Linked DNA regions of Homo sapiens. The protein of the gene in region 1 interacts with the protein of each later gene in a biochemical or structural test. Each region holds a gene or a part of one and is shown on either strand. Other genes may lie near its edges.

Region 1 (3,500 bases):
ACCCTCAATGTTGCTATGCAATTGCTCTCTGGTGCAGCTGGGAACATCTGATCTTCAGTGATAGGATCATTCTCTCCTGCATCTTCCTCAGACAAATGGCACCTGCAACCAGCTGGCTTGTATCTTAACATTCAAGGCAAACAGGTTGTCATCTTAGCTGGGGTGATGTTGTTTTCAAACACTGCCTCCTCGAGGCAAGCTTGGGGGGAAAAAACTGTGCAACACGCACAGGCGTGCACACACCCCTAACACACACACATACTATACATATGTGCCCAAAATGTCAGGGAACAAAACAAAATACAGGTCTCATCATGCAATGAAATCCTCCATAGCAAGCATGAAACTATCCTGATAATTCAAAGGATGAAATGAGCAAAACCAAGTGTTTGAATATGACTGCAAGTTTCTCCCAGATAATTTTGTTGACTGGTATTGTAGCAAAAAACCAACATCTTTCAGCCTTGTAGTCTGCTCTTTTTTGGAATTTCAGGAAAGTTTCAGAACCTGCAATTGACTGAGAAAAGGGGGCTCATGTTTTCTTTTCAAATAGCTACCAGGATAACACAGTCAGTCTGTGAACCAAACATGTCTATTTCTTTCCTTTCTAAAATGTTTCAATTCCCAGGAAATGAGCCATGGTCTCCCACCTGGTGGCAGCAAGTGTAAGTAAGGATGTGTGAATTGGTTCTTTAGCAATGCTATAACTCTCTTGGGGGAGGGATGGGGCTTATATGAAGTAGACCATGTTTCTTTCTCTCTCATCAGCTGTGCTTGAAGAAAGACAAAATTTTGTTTATTCATTGGGTTTTGACCAGCTATGAAATGAAAATCACATCATACAAATGATTGATGAAAATCTGAGGGGAGATACACTTTCATGGCTTTTGGGGGAGATAAAAGGGGTCTGTGTATCCCTCCTGATGACTGCACAGTAATAACCATTATCCTCAAACCATATCAGGACAGCTTTTATGCACAAAACTGATATTTTTGTACATTTTCTTGCAAAATAGCAAGCATTTGTTTATATGATATCTGGTGATTCCTATCAATATTTTATTAGTGATTTCTGAGCTTCTCAAAAATAGGGGTGGCCTTTCTCAGTGCCTAGTTCAATGCAGCCCTCCTTGATTTTGCTTAATAAACACTTGCTGAAGCTTGAAAACTATCCATTTCCAGCAATGTAGAGGCTGCTGCTGTGAATGAATAAAAATTTGTTCTCATTGGTTTCAGAGTGAGAAGTAAATACTTATTTAAATGGCATGGAATATATAGCCCTTAAGGAAATACAGTCAATCTTTCCATTTTCAGAGTGGTTATTGGAACTATAATTAAGAAGCAAATTACTAACAATTTTTATTAATGGCTTGGAAAGTGTCCTTATCCCATGCAGTCCCAGCAGCAGCAGACTAATAATGATATTGTTAGCTTCAGGGGATAATAAATTTTTTTCCTAAGTGAACAGAGTATCTGCAGTGACTGTAAACAGATTTGGGATTATAGATTCAGATGTTTAACCTGTTGAAGGTCAGAATGAAATTACTTTCTTTTCTCTTCAGTTTTTCCCCCCTCCTTGCCAAGCTTTGATGATACCATCTGATTTATTTGGTGTATTCTAATAGTTCCTAAGCAGTCACTACAGGGTGTTCTAGAAAAGATAATGAAGTATTGGTCAGTGGTCTTTAGTTTCTCAGAGTACAATTCTTATGCACTTATTAAAATCTCCGACTAGGGCTTCTGCAGATCTGCAGCCCAAAGGGAAAGTGCCTCCAAGGAAAGGCAAAAAAAAAAAAAAAAAAAAAAAAGAAAAAAGAAAAAGAAAAAAATATCCATAGAAACCAGGAAACCATTCAGGGGTATTCTAATAAGGATTATATAGTTCCTTCTGCTCCTGTGGCACTTTACAGTTTACAGAGTGCTTGCCTCTGCATTATTAACCCTTTTATTTCCTTGAACAAGGCAGCAGGTGGGGGAGGGCAAAAATAAAACTTGACAGCTTATAGGATGTAATGATTGAATTTTCTATTGTAGATTTTTTTAAAAATCTGACATATGGCCTTTTGTGATACATAGGATCCTCATTTGTCTAAGAACAGTCTTTTAGCTGACATTTCATCAGCTCTGAATTTTTTTCCAAAGCGGTGGTTGCTGCTCCACTTCTGATGCTCCCAGAGGGGGCCAGCATAGAAGAGGAGCCAGAGAAGAAACGAGAAGAGGCAGAGACCCTGAACCGATTACTCACAAAGACCTTTTTTGTTGGTGCGTGTGTGTTTTGTAAAGGAAATAAATTGAAATCCTGCTAAGGATAGGGTGCCCGACCTTTCCAAAGCCCACCCACTGTAATTCTTTCAGTGGAAAAAAAATAATTTTAAAGGAAAAAAAAAAAAGCAAGCAAGCAGCCATTCTAAAGGGAGATGCCCCACCCTCACCAAAGCAAATAGAGCTCATTCTCAAAATAATAAAAACAAATTTATGAATTTTAAAAACGAAAAGAAAGGGACAGTGACCCCAGATAATGAAATTTATCTCTCCTCTGAAAATTATTTTAAGAAAAAAAAAGAAACAGCTTCTAAAAGGAAGTTATCCTCACCCTCATCAAAGCCCATGGAACTTATATCCCCCAAAGAAAAATTTTAAGATGAAAAAAGAGAAATCATCTTAAGTTAAACAGTATTTCTAACCTTAAAATATTCATGAAATTTGTAAACTTTATTTGACTTCATGGCTCATGCTTAATCTCTTGAGAAAATTAAGGGGGCAAAAATAAAGGGAAGGTCCCCCAACCTCATCAAAGCTTCCTGACATTATTTTCCCGATTACATAAAATGTGCAGAGGAGGCAAATCCTTAGAGATGGAAAGGAAATGAGGGAAGCAATATGGGAGGTGGAAAAGGGGATGATGGCTAAAGAGTACAGGGTTTCTTTTGAGGGTGATTAAAATGTTCTAAAATCAGAGAATGGTGATGGGTGCACAACACTGTGGATACAATAAAACCCACAAAATTGTGTATGTTAAGATGATGAATTTTATGGTATGTAAATTACATCTCAATTTTTAAAAATAGTTCAAAGAAAGATACCATCCCTCTAACCACAAGATAAGAGACCTATTATTCTCCCAAAAACAAAAAACAAACAAAATTGAAAAAAGGAACTAAAAGAAAGGGAGATCCTCTTAAAGGATCTTCAACCTCGCCAAGGATAATAACCTTTATTTGCCACCCCTTCAATTAAAAAAAAAGAAATTAAGGAAAACAAACAAAAAAAGGAAATCTTTTTAAGGGCAGATATTCTCAAAAATCATAAAAGTTAATGAAATTTACGAATCCTCCCCTCTAGATACACACATTTTAATTAAAAAAAGAAAGAAATATTAAAGGATAGGTCCCTGACTATACCAAATCTCCAGAATTTTTAATTCCAAGAAGCAGGGGCGCGGGGGGTGCGGGAGGGAGGGACAAAAGAAATACCACTCCTCCATGACTAAAGAGCATAAA
Region 2 (3,500 bases), on another chromosome or scaffold:
TGGGTGCAGTGTTCTTTGTGTATGTCAAGTTTAGGTCAAGTTTGCTCTTTATATTGTTCAAATATTCCGTATCCTTGTTGATTTTTCCTGTTTTCTCTGTCAGTTCCTAAGAGAGGTGTATTAGAATTCCCACTGTGATTGTAAATTTGTCTATTTCCCATTGCAGTTCTGTCAGTTTTTCCTTTACATATGTTGAAGCTATGTTAACAACATACAGATTTAGAATTATTATCTTTCTGGTGAGCTGAAATTTTTATTATGAAATCTATTATTGTTATGAAGTCTTCTTTATTTCTAGTAGGTATAAAGTCTAATTTTCCTGATATTAACATAGCTAACCATGCTTCTTTCATTTAATATTTGCCTGACATATCTTTTTCCATCCTTTTTCTTTCAACCTTTTTGGATCTACATTGTAGGTGTGCTGTGTCTGCTGCAAAGAACAGGCACATGGCTGGGAGTGGTGAGTGGCCCATGCTTATAATCCCAGCACTTTGGGAGGCCAAGGCAGGAGGATCACTCAAGCCCAGAAGTTCGAGACCAGTGTGGGCAACATAGTGAGAGCTCATCTCTACAAAAAATAAAAAAATTAGCTGGGCATGATGGTGTGCACCTGTGGTCCTAGCTACTTGGGAGGCTGAGGAAGGAGGATCACTTGAGCCTAGGAGGTCAAGACTACAGTGAGCTGTGATTGTGATACTGTACCCTAGCCTGGGTGTCAGAGTGAGACCCTGACTCAAAACAAACAAACAACAAACAAACAGTATAGGCAGAGAGTTGTTGTTATTATTATTATTTTCTTCTCAATGCAGACCTAGGATGATATTTTCCTTCAAAAAATCTTTGTTCGTTTGTCAGGTGCCTAGGGTCACTGGGTTAGTCTTAATTCAGTGTTGGGACTGAGAGTACTTGAAATCGAGCTGTAGTCCCTGGAGTAGCTGTGTCTGATTACAGTTCACTCTATTCCTATGGAGCAACCCTTCAGGGTCCCTATGCAAAAGGTGGGGCTCAGAAGAACCCTGCTTCTTGGTGGGCCCTGGTCCCTAGTTCCTATTCCTCTAGCCCTGAGAAGCAGGCAGAAACTCACTCAGTCTCTTGATCTCTCAATCAGCCCTCTGGAATTTGAAAACACCCCAGGAGGAAATTAGCCCAGAAAAACACTAGGTTTCCTTCTACAGTCCTCCATTCCCCTAGATCCTGCCTGGTAGCTCCTCTCTCTCTTGTTGTTTATCTAAGAAGATGCTTTAACATATTTTGTTTAGCATTTCTAGTTTTCCTCAGTGGATCTGTCATCCCAGAAATGGAAGTCCCCTACATATATTTTCTAAGCTTTTTTGAGTTGGTTTTTGTTTTTTTTTCCCTCCCTTTCTGCCTCTCTCCCTCCTTTTCTCCTCCCTCCCTGCCTCTTCCGTCCCTTCCTCCCCTCCCCGCTCTCTCTCTCCGTCCCTCCTTTCTTTCTCCCTGCCTGCCTGCCTACCTGCAGTTGTCCGAGCAGGCATTACTGGGGCTGGAGGGTCCCTTTCCAAGATGGCTCATTCACATGGCTCTCAGCAGGAGGCCTCAGTTCCTTGCTACCTGTAATTAGGAGGCTTCTGTTTCTCATCGCATGGACCTCTTCGTAGGATTGCTTGAGCTTCCTTATTATGTGGCAGCTGGCTTCCTTCTAGGCAAGTGATACAAAAATGAAAGCAAGAAAGAACTCCCATAAAAAGATGAGTAACCCAGCTCAAAAATGGGTAAAGGATTTGAATAGACATTTTTTTCCAAAGAAAAATGGCTAACAGCATGTGAAAAAATGCTCAATGTCATTAGTTATCAGGGAAATGCAAATCAAAACCACAATGAGATACTATCATACTAGAATGACTATAATAAAAAAAGAGCCAATAACAGGCGTTGAAGAAGTTGAGGGGAAATTGGAACCCTTGTACACTGCCGGCCGGAATGTCAAATGGTGCAACCACTTTGGAAAAGTTTGGCGGTTCCTCAAACAATTAAATGTAGAGTTTCCATTTGACCCAGCAATTCCACTCTTAGGTATAAATCCAAGAGGAATGAAAACACATGCTCACACAAACATGTGTACACACACACATGTTCATAACGGCATTATTCATAGTAGCCAAAAAGTCGAAATAACCTGAAATATCCATCACCAGATGAGTGGATAAACAAAATGTGGTATATCCATACAATGGAATATTATTTGGCCACAAAGGGACTAAAATACTGATACGTGCTACAATATGGGTGAACCTTGAAAACATTATGCTAAGTGAAAGAAGTCAATCACAAAAGACCATGCGTTGTGTGATTCTGTTTACATAAGTATCCAGAATAGGCAAGTCCTTAGAGACAGAAAGCAGATTAGTGGTTGACAAGGGCTGAGGGGAGAAGGGAATAGGGTGTGACTGCGAAAGAGTATGGGATTTCTTTTAGGGGAGGATGAAAATGTTCTAAAATTAGATAGAGGTGATTGATTACAGAATCCTGTGAATATACTAAAAGAAAATTACATGCTTTAAATTGGTGAAGTGTGGCCGTGCACGGTGGCTCAATCCCAGCACTTTGGGAGGCTGAGGCGGGTGGATCATCTAAGGTCAGGAGTTCGAGAGCAGCCTGGCCAACATGGTGAAACTCTGTCTCTACAAAAAATACAAAAAATTGGCCAGGTGTGGGTGGTGCATGCCTGTAATCCCAGCTACTCAGGAGGCTGAGACAGGAGAATAATTTGAACCTGGGAGGCAGAGGTTACAGTGAGCTGAGATCATGTCATTGCACTCCAGCCTGGGCGACAGAGTGAGACTCCATCTCAATAATAAACAAAACTGATGAAATGTATGATATGTTAATTATATCCCAATACAGCTGTTAAAAAAAGAAGGAACTAATAATACCTTTAATATCCTAATGTTGAAAGTCATCCACTGTCATTTCTACCACATTCTATTTGTTAGAAGCAAGTCACTAAGTCCAGCCCATGTCTGAAGGGAGGAACTAGGCTTCACCTCTTGAAAGGAAGAGTATCAAAGACTTTGTGGACAAATTTTAAACCCATGATAGGTATAGAGAGGCTAACAGTGGGGGCCCTGGACTGCCTAAATGCAAACCCCAGCTCTGCCACTTACTGGCTGTGTGATTTGGACAACCTGTTTTAGCTATTTTCTTTTTTTTGAGTTGGGGTCTCACTCTGTTGCCCAGGCTGGAGTGCAGTGGTGTGATCATGGCTCACTACAGCCTCAACCTCCTGGGCTCCAGTGATCCTCCCACCTCAGCCTCCTGAGTAGCTGGGACTACAGGTACACACCACCACGTCCGGCTAATTTTAAAAAAACGTTTTTGGAGAGACAGAGTCTTGCTATGTTGCCTAGACTGGTCTCAAACTCCTGGCCTCAAGTGATCATCCTGCCTCAGCCTCCCAAAGTGTTGGGATTACAGGTGTGAGCCACCATGCCCAGCCAACCTGTTTACCTCTTAATAATCTTCAGCTTCCTTGCCTG
Region 3 (3,500 bases), on another chromosome or scaffold:
ACCTCTAGCCATCAGTGGCGCCTGTCTCATTCTCTGCAGGTGATGGAGGAGTTGCAGGCCGCCTCCGTGCACAGTGATGAGAGGGAGCTGCTCCAGCTGCTGTCCACCCCGCACCTGAGGGTAGTCACACAGAGCCCCTGCCCAGCCATGCCTCTGGGTCTCCTGGGATGGGGGCGGAGGGAGCTCTCCTAATGAGGCTGAGGAGTGGAGACTGAGGGAGCGATCCTCAGCACTAGTGTCTGGGCAGTTGTCTCTCTGGCATGGCGTCTGCCACCCTCCATACCACCGGCCAGCTGCGGCCTGCTGACCCTGTGAGCGGCGGGCCAGCCTTCCTTTTCTCTGGCTTTCCCGGCAGGCTGTGCTCATGGTACATGACACGGTTGCCCAGAAGAATTTTGACCCCGTTCTCCCGCCTCTGCCTGACAATATCGATGAGGATTTTGATGAGGAATCGGTGAAGATCGTCCGCTTGGTGAAGAACAAGGAACCCCTGGTAGGTGCTGCTGCCTGCCCCTCTCTAACCCACTCTTCCCCTGCCTCTCACCCCCACCCAGAACACTGGACAAGATCCTCCCCGAAGTCTTCAGAGTGAGTGACGGCAGCTTTGCCTGCGCTGCTGCTCATCCCTGTGGTGCCTCTGTGTGCAGGGCACCCCTTTCTCTAGGTGGATACAGCCCCTCTCAACTGTGGCCAACACCCTTTGTGTAGTTAATAACCTGCACAATTGTACAGGGTGACCCTGATCATGCTTTAAGCCAGAAATGGACAAACTACAGCCCAAGGGCCAAAACCAGCCCACAGCTTATTTTTTAAAATAAAGCTTTTTTGGAGCACAACCAGGCCCATTCACTTACAGATTGGCTGTGGCTGCCTTTATAGTGCGATGGCAGAGTTGAGTCGTTGTGACAGAGACTGTGTGGCTGGCCTCAAATATTTACATGTGGCCCCTTATAGAAAACGTGTGACAATGCCTGCTCTGAATGTTGAGGAAGCACAGGGCATTCCTCTCCCCAGCAGACAGACTGCTATCACTTTGGTCCTGGTTCAGCATTGATTTACCGAGCAAAGGGACAGCGTTGTTTATGAGATGCTCAGAAGTGGTGGAAGCCCAGAGAATTGAGATTGGCTCCAGAGGATCCCACAGCTGGCATTCTCTATTTCCAACTTTCCCCAAATGACCTCCGACGAGCCTCTTCTGCAAACAGACGAGGATCTCTCCTCTGCCTCTGTTTCCTCACTTGTAAAATGGAGTGGCCATCCATTGATTTAGCAAACACATTGTGAGCCCTCCTATCCAGGCTCTGTATTGGGTGCTGGCGGTTCAGAGCTGAATAAATGATGGATAGCGATGCTGGAAAGTTCTCAGTTCTGGGGGGCTAGAAGTCCTGAGGTTCTTAGCTGATGGCCTCTCTTTCTAGCAATAATTATCTTACGTACTTCAAATAGATGGCACAGATGATGTTAACAATAAGTGTGCAAATGTGTTTGCAGTTACAGCCACTAATAAGTGGTTAACATATGTTGAGTGCTTACTGTGTACTAAGTGCCTTGAGTGGAATCCTTGCAACAACACTGTGAGTTAAATGCTGTCCCACATCTCACAGGAAACAGGCTTGGAGAGGATAAGAGATTTCCTTGTTAAGTCCACATGCTTTTTGTAAACGGCAGAACTGTGTTCACACCCAAGGCTGTCCAGCCCTAGAGCTTAGCTCTTAAGCTTTCTGCCGTCCTGCTGCAGTCCGGCCTGTGTGGTGCAGGAAATCGAGGGCTCGTTAGTGCCTTTCTCATCCTAAGTGTCATCTCTGCTGTGCTTCATGGGCCAAGTCCTGGTCCCGAAGCCCTGGCTGGGGTGCATAATTGGTTTCCCTCAGCAGCAGCAGAAGGCCCGGTAACCCTGTGATTGGGTAGAGGCAGGGTGAGAATTAGCTGGCACGTGTCATCCTCATTATTAAATGTCTTTGCAAGTGGTAGGAACTGTGATATGAGAGAGATGTGATGGAGAACTTACTGGATTTGGCATCACAAAAAGCTTTCCCCTTTACCAGCTGGGTGACCTTGAGGATATTTAACTTCTCTGAGCCCCAGTCCCTCATCTAAAATGTTGCAGCATTATTGTGCCTTGTAAACTGTACAGTGCAGGGCTATATTAATGGGGGATGTTGGTTTTGTTTTGTCTTCAGCATTGGGAAGGTCCCCACTGATCTCTCTGGACTGTCAGAGGGAGGGACTGGGGAGGCTGTGTTGGGTCCAGAGAGTAGGGGTCTGAGGTTTGGAGCTGCTGCTTAAGAACCTGTCTCTTCTGTCTCGGGTTCAGGGTGCCACCATCCGGCGGGACGAGCACTCAGGGGCTGTTGTGGTGGCCAGGATCATGCGAGGAGGCGCAGCAGACAGGAGCGGTGAGTGGCGGCAGTGCAAAGCTGGCCCAGCCCCGATCATGGCCATTGTTCCAGAGCCCTCCACCTTTGCTAATAGGTCCCCTTACCTCCCTCCTATCAGGTCACCTGTTTGGGATTTGCTTTGCTTTCTGGGGTTGTGGCTGGAATTCTCATCTCCTTCCCAAGTCAGTAGAAATTTTAATAGAAAATATAGGCCAGCTGGGCATGGTGGTGCACACCTGTAATCCCAGCACTTTAAGAGGCCGAGGCAGGCGGATCACTTGAAGCCAGGAGTTCCAGACCAGCCTAGCCAACATGGCGAAACCCCATTTCTACTAAACACACAAACCTGGGAGGCGGAGGTTGCAGTGAGCCAAGATCATGCTGCTGCACTCCAGTCTGGGCAACAGAGTGAGACTCTGTCTCAAAAAAAAAAAAAAAAGAAAAAAAAAAAAAAGCCAGGCACAGTGGCTCACGCCTGTAATCCCAGCATTTTGGGAGGCCGAGGTGGGCGGATCACCTGAGGTCGGGAGTTCGAGACCAGCCTGACCCACACAGAGAAACCCCATCTCTACTAAAAATACAAAATTAGCCAGGCTTGGTGGCACATGCCTATAATCACAGCTACTTGGGAAGGCTGAGGCAAGAGAATCGCTTGAATCTGGGAGGTGGAGGTTGCAGTGAGCCGAGATCGCGCCATTGCGCTCCCGCCTGGGCAACAAGAGTGAAATTCCGTCTCAAAAAAAAGAAAAAAAGAAAAAGAAAATATAGGCCATGCACGGGTGGCCCACACCTGTAGTCCTAGCTGTTCGGGAGGCCCAGGCAGGAAGATTGTTTGAGCCCAGGAGTTTGAGGTTGCAGTGAGCCGTGATTACACCACTACACTCTAGAGTGGGCGACGCAGTGAGACCGTCTCAAAAAAAAAAGAAAAAAAAAAAAAATATATATATATATAAATAGTCATGGAGTACTTTGGGGTGATTGAGAAAAAGCTCATGCGTTGGTTTAGTCCAAGGACTGTGACAGTTAAGAATATAGCATGGGCTTGCGGGATTACTAACTGTGGGACAGGGTTGACACCCTTCCCCACCATCCCAGGTCTTGTCAAGCTACTATTACAAAGAG
Region 4 (3,349 bases), on another chromosome or scaffold:
GAGCGATGCGGAGACATGGCTAATCTCAGGGAGCCTGCGAAGGGTCAGCTGGAGAGGGCACTCACCTGGCAACTCCTGCCCTCTTATTTGGCAGTGCAAAAAGGCTATTCATCTTTTTGGAAAAAGAAACCCCTGTATCTGTGGAAAAGACAAGGGATTTGAAATTTCCAAGTCTAGGGTCTAAAGCTCTGGGTTGGGAAGGAGGTGAAATTCTTCTCATTCTTTGGCTCATGAGTCTGCTGCAGCAGAAAAAAACAAAGCCCAGGCTGATGCCTGCTAAATTGCAAATTACTGCTAAATTGTCTTGCAAATTACTGTGGCCTAGTTCAGGATAGATTGTGACCTGTTTGTGTGACCTTGATTATGACTGTGACCTCCACCATGGTTGAAAACTGCTGATTTTGTATAAGATGTACCCTGAATCCATGAAGACAAATTTGTGGAACCAAGAAAAGAGAAACAGTAATAGTGTGATCTTATGTGGAGAAAACACCCTAGTAGGTTGGGGAGTGCAAAGTATCAAGGTTTATGACAACAGCGAGTGTTTATTGAGTAAATAAGCAGTCTGTGTACTACTGCCCGCTTTCCATTTTGTTTTGCCTGTGACCGTGAAAGAAGTGGGTATTTTTTGAAAGGAAAGAGATTAATAGTACTCAGCATCGGTGTAGTGCTTGGTGTTTGCAAAGAGGTTTCAAATGCACTATCTAGTGTGAGCCTGTGAGAATAGGCGTTTTTACCTGTTGTACAAGTGAGGCATTTATATCGTTGAAACATAGAAGAGGAGAAATTACTTGATTAATGTATTCCACCAAAGGGACCTATAACTTAAATCTGTATCTTTGATTCTAAGTCCCCTCATCTTTTCCACAGTGACAGAGCTTTCCAATACTCTTCCCAGTACTCTCCAATTTTGTTGTATCTAAGTAATAAGTATAGATATTTTTGGACTTAATATCATGTTTAAGTTTACATCGATATTACCCACACAGAAAACAATAAAAGGAAATGATGGTTCCCAAGGTGTTTTGGTATTTTTTACATTCTTTGGTTGAGTCCTCAACACTAATAATTAATAATTGGGAGCAAGCATGCCTGTGAATTACTGCAAGTAGAAACTATATATGTCATTAATTCTTACAACAGTCTTATAAGGTAGGTATTACTCTTATTATTATTATTAATTCTTATTTTAGGGTTGAGGGAAATAAAGCTCAGAAATTTAAATACCTAGCTAGTATTTAAATACTAGCTAAAGCTAGTATGTCTCTGAGTTAGGATTTAAGCCAAATTTTGTAAAACACTAAAACGATTTTTTTTTTTTTAAATTATACTGCCTTCCAGAAAATGTGTAGCTCCTTGGAAATTATTGAATTGGAGTCGTCAGCTGGATACATTTGGATATTTTAAGAATGAAGTTACCTGTTAGGGCTACACACTGTCTTTATTAAAGCTTTGTGCAAAACCAGGCGCTATAATAGATGCTCTTTCTTTGCATCTTTCCTTTAGGTCTGTCAGTTTGTCGTCTCTGTCAACGGGCTCAATGTCCTGCATGTAGACTACCGGACCGTGAGCAATCTGATTCTGACGGGCCCACGGACGATTGTCATGGAAGTCATGGAGGAGTTAGAGTGCTGAGCTCCTGGGCCTCCCAGCCCTCCAGTGGCCTGTGGGTGAGGGAAGCCAGAATGACACAAAGCAATGCAAAGACAAGATTGCCATGCAAATGGATGGTTTTGGACATACGAGTCTTCTCCGCACATACATGTCTAAAGTTGAGTTTTATACACTGAATGTGGAAGAACCGGGTATCATATCTTTTTTAAAAAATGTCAGTGTAGAAAACATTTGGGAAACCATTTTCCTACATGATAGAACTGCCTTACTAGATTTCTATTTGTAGCTCTCATTCATTGTTTTTTATCTTAGTTTGCAGAAAGGTGTTGAAATGCTTCTCTAGCCCAAACAGCGACATGCTAAAGTCCCCTTCTTCAGAGTCAATAGAGTAGTTGTTAAAGGTTTTAAATTGTACTTTCTCCAAAATTAGCATGCAGCTATTTAATAGGGAATCTAGATTTCACCAAGATTCAAATCAAAGCAACATTTAAAGGAATAAGACCTGTTCACTAGCATTTTCAAGGGGGTTCTAAAGCATTCAAGTGCTTAAAAGCCATAAAAAATGACTTCTTAATTCCTGCCTTTAGTGTCAACTTTTAAGTTAATACAGGTTTCAATTGTGGCATTAGGAAAAAAAAAAACCTTGTGATGCTATGGTTGGGGGTAGTTAGGGAGAGACTACATGAAATTGTGTGCCCCTATTTTCTTTCTGATCCTAAATCATTTTGTTTTATAAATCAGCTATAGCATCTTTCTAGAATTAATCCTGAATATGTTGAATGTTAAAATAGAGAAGTTTGTATATACACATAATTAAAAATCAACCCTTCTGGCAAGATTTCACTTTGAAGGTGTCTGTTTTTAAGGGAAGGCTAAAACTTTGCTGATATGTGATAAAACTTGAACTCTAAATTGCCTCCTTAGCCTGAATTTTTACTAGCTTTCTAGTGTAACATATTCTAAGGACATGACATGCTGCTTATTTGGGGGGATTATTTTTCACCAAAATGATCATCTTGTGTTGTAACTTTTCAGCTCACTTGTATATACGCACGTTTTCATTTTTGGTCTAGAAAATAGTGCATTTTGGGGCTCAGCGTGCAGAGGAAATTCCTCAAAGTGCCAAATTAGGCAGTCAGGAAATACTAAATTCTTCATTCCAAATAATGGATCTGAATGATGACGTTAATTTTTTATCATGCATTAACAAAATAAAATATGAGAATTGTACCACAGCCATTTCTTTTCATTAGGTTATCGTAATGTATAGGTACTGGTGGAATGGACCTACCGTGCTAAATATGTTATAGACATATATATATATATATATATATATATATATATTTCTGGTAATCCAACTTTTCTGATTTGTAGCTTTAGTCAGAGAATAGGATTTTGGAGTGACAGAGAATGTCTAACAGTAATACTGTTGATATACATTTGAGAAATACTATCACCTCTGTGTGGGTGTGCATTTGTACTGTATGGCAGGCTCTGTGCATTTAATATATATGATATCCTTTAACCCTCAATGCAACCTTGCAAGGTAGATATTAACGTCCACATTTTTCAGATGTGGAAACTAAGCCTGAGCAAGTTTTAAAATGGTCTCTAAATTCACACGGCTGCAGGAACTACTAGGTGAAATAGGCTGAATGTAAACACAGGTTTAACGCTAAATCCCATGTTACTCCCCTCAACTTTTCCCCATTTAAGGACCTTATATTGAGGGTTT

What was found. The genes of interacting proteins can lie anywhere in the genome.
Region 2: the proteins of DGKK (region 1) and RGS3 interact in a test that uses a peptide from one of them, tested with the Homo sapiens proteins (one large-scale study listed by IntAct).
Region 3: the proteins of DGKK (region 1) and MPP3 interact in a test that uses a peptide from one of them, tested with the Homo sapiens proteins (one large-scale study listed by IntAct).
Region 4: the proteins of DGKK (region 1) and DEPTOR interact in a test that uses a peptide from one of them, tested with the Homo sapiens proteins (one large-scale study listed by IntAct).

Annotation. Positions count from the first base shown.
Region 1 is NC_000023.11:50,464,326-50,467,825, reverse strand, and holds part of DGKK (diacylglycerol kinase kappa), read left to right. Parts: intron 1-3,500. UniProt on the Homo sapiens protein: Diacylglycerol kinase that converts diacylglycerol/DAG into phosphatidic acid/phosphatidate/PA and regulates the respective levels of these two bioactive lipids.
Region 2 is NC_000009.12:113,470,227-113,473,726, forward strand, and holds part of RGS3 (regulator of G-protein signaling 3), read left to right. Parts: intron 1-3,500. UniProt on the Homo sapiens protein: Down-regulates signaling from heterotrimeric G-proteins by increasing the GTPase activity of the alpha subunits, thereby driving them into their inactive GDP-bound form.
Region 3 is NC_000017.11:43,826,647-43,830,146, reverse strand, and holds part of MPP3 (MAGUK p55 subfamily member 3), read left to right. Parts: intron 1-15; coding exon of another isoform or gene 16-39; coding exon 40-120; intron 121-355; coding exon 356-493; intron 494-2,314; coding exon 2,315-2,396; intron 2,397-3,500. UniProt on the Homo sapiens protein: Participates in cell spreading through the phosphoinositide-3-kinase (PI3K) pathway by connecting CADM1 to DLG1 and the regulatory subunit of phosphoinositide-3-kinase (PI3K). Stabilizes HTR2C at the plasma membrane and prevents its desensitization.
Region 4 is NC_000008.11:120,048,070-120,051,418, forward strand, and holds the end of DEPTOR (DEP domain-containing mTOR-interacting protein), read left to right. Parts: intron 1-1,506; coding exon 1,507-1,635; 3' UTR 1,636-2,849; downstream 2,850-3,349. UniProt on the Homo sapiens protein: Negative regulator of the mTORC1 and mTORC2 complexes: inhibits the protein kinase activity of MTOR, thereby inactivating both complexes. DEPTOR inhibits mTORC1 and mTORC2 to induce autophagy.